2 separate regions of the Homo sapiens genome follow, and region 2 is linked to region 1. Evidence: fine-mapped expression QTL. Tissue or cell type: prefrontal cortex. Region 1 holds a variant in brackets; the other region holds the start of a gene. All regions are shown on one strand. Distances are between the middles of the regions.

What was found. PIP is the estimated chance that this variant, and not a neighbour inherited with it, causes the effect.
Region 2: SLC12A8 starts here. The variant in region 1 is fine-mapped to the expression of SLC12A8 in prefrontal cortex (CommonMind, PIP 0.95).

Annotation. Positions count from the first base shown.
Region 1 is chr3:125,120,202-125,122,881 of GRCh38, reverse strand. SLC12A8 (solute carrier family 12 member 8) reads left to right here. Exons shown (of 14, transcript NM_024628.6): 7 at 2,196-2,283. Among named protein-coding and RNA genes, the nearest start is that of MIR5092, 30 kb to the left of the region's middle. RefSeq lists enhancers at 942-1,161, 1,367-1,872, 1,873-2,379, 2,382-2,431. The variant G/A (reference allele first, on the strand shown) is at 1,590.
Region 2 is chr3:125,211,446-125,214,125 of GRCh38, reverse strand. It overlaps SLC12A8 (solute carrier family 12 member 8), which reads left to right and starts at 1,378. Exons shown (of 14, transcript NM_024628.6): 1 at 1,378-1,426. RefSeq lists silencers at 1,297-1,446, 1,487-1,706, 1,717-1,766 and an enhancer at 1,658-2,257.

The DNA of each region.
Region 1 (2,680 bases):
TTTCTTCCAAATTCTCTCTGTATCCTGATTTATGTTTCTTCCAGCCTGGGTTGTTCTGTTTCTATTTATGCGTGTATTTGTTTATTTGTTGCTGGTTTTCATCACACATTGGGTGATCTTGGTTGTGGGCATGGATTTCCCCAGCTGTCGCATGGTTAGGTCTGTCTCCCTGCTGGGGCCCTACCTTGATGAGAAGTTTGTGAGTGCTGTTGATTCTTGAGCAGGGCTTTATTTGGGGTGCAAACGTCCAGCCCTGGTTTTCCTCAGTGTATTGAGATCTTGTAGAGAAGCATTCCGAGGCTTTCTTTCCTTCTCTTTTCCTCGGTATTATATTCTCCATTTTCTATGTTCTATGTTCCAGACATTCATGGGAACCTTTCATCTACTTAGGGTCCTCCTCCCAACTTCTCTTTGCTTATGGGAATTTATCTACTTTTCCCCTTTACTATGCTCTTAATAGGATCTTGGAGAGGAGGGAATGAGAGGAAAGAAAATGTGCCTAACAGGCCGTTAAAAACAAAAACAAAAACAACAACAACAAAACCTTAAAAGTTTTCACGTTTCAAAATGATCATTGTAGAAAATTGAGAAAATATAAACAGTCAAATAAAAATGACCTGTTCTTTTATCACCCAGAAATAACATTGTTAATGTTTTAAAACATGTTCCAGTTCCTTTTTCTATATATTTTTATAATAATGGGATCATACCATGTGTTCTGTTTTCTAATATGCGTCTTAAAACTAAGCAAAAGCTTCTAAACATCTTTCCATGTCACAACATATCCCTTACAATATTCTGAGACCTAGTATTTATTGAAAGCTATATCATCACTTATTTAACCAACCCTCTATTTTTAGACATTAGGTTGTTTCTAATTTCCACTATTCTAAACAAGCGTTTATAAACACGCTGGGCTAAATCTTCCCTCATAGCCTTGACTACCTACGATGGGTAAAGTCCTCATAGTGGAGTTGCTGGGTGACAGTATATGCACCCCATCCGCGGGCCAGCATTCAGGGTTCTCTCTGAAATACACCCCCCTACTTTCACTTTCTGGTTCCAAACTGTCACTTCACTGCACTTCGCTTGGATTCTGTGAAGCATTGTAGCAGAGGCATTAAGAGCATAATTTTCAGAGTCAGACAGACCAGGGTTGAATCTTAGCTTTGCTGCTTATTAAATGTGTGACCTTAGGCTGTTTTAATTAACCTCTTTGAACACTTTTCCATAAGATGAGGAAATAATTCTACCTTTCTGATGAGGTTGTTATGAGAATTAAACAGGATAAAAAAATGCATGTAAAGCACTTGACACAGGCCCAGGCAGTTTGAAAGTGTTCACAAATCATGGAGTTAGATTCATTCCCATCCCTAAGCCCATTCAAATCCCTCTTTCAAGGCCACATTCAAGATACAACCCCCTCCACGGGTCTTTCCTGACCAGGGCAGCCCATCACACTGAGTTGTTATGGCACTTGTGGGCTGGATCCTCATCCGATGTTCAGAACACCCTGTCTTGTTGCTTTCATATATTTGTTTGTATGGGAAGAGGCAACATCCCCACTTCACCATGCAGCACTGTGCTGT[G/A]GGTCCCTCATGGATTAATTCATTTTCATTAGTGTTCTTGCAGAAGAGAGGTGATGATGAAAAGGAGCTTGTGACTCCATGTCAGTGGCATCAGGATTGGTTTTTTTGGAGTTTATTTCAAGCCCTTTGGTAGCTCAGGGGCTTGGAGGATGGTACCTGACCCCGAGGACACAGGAAGCTCCCATGGAATCAGCAGGCAGCAGAGGCAGGGAAAGCTGCTGAGCAGGAGGCTGCCAGACCTTTGTAATGCTGAGCCTCTCCAGGGCATTGTCCCAGCTCAGCAGGCAGCGCAGGACCTCTGTGTGCCTTGCAAGCCGCTTTCCTCCCCCCTGGTTGCTTTGCGCTGAGCGGTAGGATGCTTTTGGAGCTGGGAGGGCTTTCCTCCTGAGCCTCCTCCAACCCACAAAGGTGCCTTTCACGCCACAGGGATGCCTCCCTAGTTGCCAGGGGAGATTGAAAAGCAGCCTATGCGCAGAGCTGCAGCTGGAGGGCTTGCGGTGGGACAGCTTCCAGGAGAGGGTCCCGCAGGAGAGGAAGGGGCAGCCCTGGGGAAGGCGATGCGTGGAGGAGGCTGCTCACCCCATTCCCCATCTGGGTGTCTTTCAGGAGTCATGGCCGGCTTCAACATGGGGGGCGACCTCAGGGAGCCTGCCGCCAGCATTCCCCTGGGCTCCCTGGCAGCTGTTGGCATCTCGTAAGTTCCCCTCATGGCAATCAGTCTGAGCTAGAGAGTGGGAGAGAAAACCCCAGGCAGAAGAGGGATTGCCCCTTTTGTTCTGAGAGTGCCCCGACTGTGACCAATCTATTTCATATTCCGATCCTTCTTTTAACACTCGGTGGGCTGGAAAATTCACGTCTGGTGGGTTCAGACACTGCCCTTTCATGCGCCCTGCCTGGGAATGCTGCCGAGGAGGAGTGTCGGGACCCAGATCACAGATCGAATCCTTTCTTTCCTTTCCTCGGCCTCCCGCCCCCGTCCCTCCCCCACCCCCATTTTGAACTTGGGGATTTTTTTAACCACCGAGTTTCCAGGATCACTGGAGGGAGCATAAAGATGAAGAGTTTTGCAATCAGACGAATTGGGGCTGCAT
Region 2 (2,680 bases), 91 kb before region 1:
AACGTGACTGTGTCAGCCTGTCCGCCCATTCATCCTTTGTTCACAGATGGTTAATCTGTAACTTTTGGGGGGTCTTTTTTTCTGGCAGAGATGGGTTATTAAAAATTTCTTTGCTGGGAATGAAATTCTGACACATGCTACAACATGGATGAACCTTGAGGACATTATGCTGAGTGAAGTAAGCCAGACACAAAAGGACAAGTATTGTATGATTCTACTTACATGAAATACACAAAATAGGTAAATCCATAGAGACGGGAAGTAGATGAGGGGAGTTACCTCTGAGGGTAGACGAAACGGGGAGTTAGTACTTAGTGGGTACAGAGTGTCTATTGGGGACGATGAAAGTTTTGGAAATAGCGATGATGGTTGGACAATATTGTGTGTGATTAATACCACTGAACTGTACAGTTAAAATGGTAAAAATGGCAAATATGATGTTCTATATCTTCACACGCGTCTTTGCTGGAGCAGAAGCGAGAGGTTAGGTTCTGTCAGTGTTCCCATGGCTTAGCCTTCCCTTTTGTTTTTAGAAGAACAACCTCTATTTTTAGGGATTTTCACACAAAGGCTTGTGGGCGTGGGAAGTTCTCCCAGCTGCCCTCCTGTTTCTCAGAAGCCCACATGGAAGCCTCTCAAATTATTTAAGGTTTAGGAAATATGCCAGATTGGGAATGGAGATAATTTAATCTCTCTGTATGTTAATTTAGGGTTCTTTTTTTCTGCAACATGAGGCCCTGGAAACCTTACTTCACCCCTAGGAAAGGCAGTTCTGGGTCTTGGTGAAGGGGGTAAGGGTAATTCACCCCTACACAGCATGCCCAGAGCGCTTTCCTGGCAAAAGCAGTTCCACGCCCTCAGAGTCTGGGGTCACCTGATCACGCAGCCAGGCACACACGGAGACCCCCGGTACCGGGGTCTCGGTCAGCTTGTCCAGATTCTTCTCCACATCTGCCCAGGGGGCTGCGGGTTTCCCTGCACTCCGGGCTTATCCCGGGCTTTCTCAGTCCTGCGTGCAGTGCTCACAGCCACTCCTCAGAGCCGCACAGGGTAGGCTCCTGTCCCTAGTCCCCTGGTCCCGGGGCTGGGCATTTCCGCTGGTTGCACTGTCGAGGGGGGAGAGGCAGTGGCTGGTCACTTCGAGCCTGTGGGCTTGCGGCCCCTACTCCCTGTTTTCCCCCAGCCCTGCCCCTACCCAGGTGAATGTTCTTGTCCAGGTAGGCGCGAAGGCCCGACCCTTGCGGAGGGAAAGCCTCTGCAGCGCCTCCTCGCCACCTGGGCCCGAGACTCCCGGTGCTGGCGTGGCAGGGGTGCCCCCGCCGGGACGGGACAGCTGGGACCCGCGCAGCCGAGCCGGGGCAGCCACGTGGCGGCGGGGCGGGGACCGGGCGGGCCGGGCGCTGGGAGCTGGCTGTCCCAGGAGCAGGTGAGGGCGGAAGGGCTGTGGGGGGTGGAGAGGGTGGTCTCGGGACAGTTCCTCTCCCCGGCCCGCAGTTAGGAGCCAGGCCTGGGGTCACCTTTGCCCCCACCTCCCCGCCCAGGTGGATCCTCTCCTACCGCCGGTCACCCGCGCGCCGGCACACGGGCCTGGCCCCAGTACTTGGGGTGCGGGTCCGCGTCTGCGTGGGGTGCCAAGGGGCCCGGGTCCCAGCGTGGCCCAAACGTGAGGGTAGGGGCTCCGCGGAGGAGCCAGGTGAATGTGGGCGGAGGCCTGCGGGGCGGCCTGCGGAGGCCGCGGGGCGGCGGGAAGGGCGAGCGGAGGCCTGGGGTCCCTTGCTCTGTGCGGCGCGGGCAGCCGGGGACACCCGGGTGCTCTGGCTCCCTACCTGTCACCCGGCTTTTGGCAGGACTGCAGCCCACCAAGTCCCCCAGCCTTCCCAGCTTCCCACTGGGCTAACCCTCCTCTCCCAACCCCCCACTCAGTGCTCCGGGCGCCTTCCCTCCTCGCCAGCGCTGGCTGCTGTCCTTAGTCGCCTTCTTCCCAGGAAGATCAGCTCTAACCCTCCCCCTCGCTCTCTTCCTCCCCCTTCCTCCTTCTACCAAAGGGTCCTGAGCCCCGTCTACCTTGCAGCACTGTGCTGGGGAGAGGCGCCACACAGATCAAGGGGACAAACTCCCTCCTCCCCTCAAGGAAAGCCAGGTCCAGCGCGAAGGGGAGGGTGCCTGGGGGTGGGTTGAGGAGCTGCCCTAGTCCTGTCCAGCCTTTTCTCACTCACCCTCTTCAATCTCCTACCCTTCTCCGGCCCTGCTCCAGAAGGGCCCCAAAACAGCCTCCTCATGGCCCCTCTCCCCTCTGCTCAGGGCGCAGCTACATTCACTCACCACCTGCAGCCAGGTCTAGTGCGTCATGATGCCCTCCTCCTGGAGAGAGGGGTTCACGAGGCACTTGAGGGTGGGAGAGGAGTGTGACTCTGTGTCCTCAAGGGCTGGGCAGCAGGGCAGCTGGCTCTGACCCTCACGTATTTAAGGAGCTCAGGGAAGGAGAGAGCTGGGAGTGCCTGAGGTTCTAGGGCAGCAAGGTTTGAGCACAGGTGGGCACTGAAGGACCAGCGGGATCTACCTGGGTACCAAAAAGGTAACCCGGCCAAGTTTCCAGATGAGGTAGACAAGGTTTCTTCCTCAGCCAGGGCCTCGCCTGGTAGTTTGAACAATTCTAGTAGAGAGAAAGGATGGACAACAA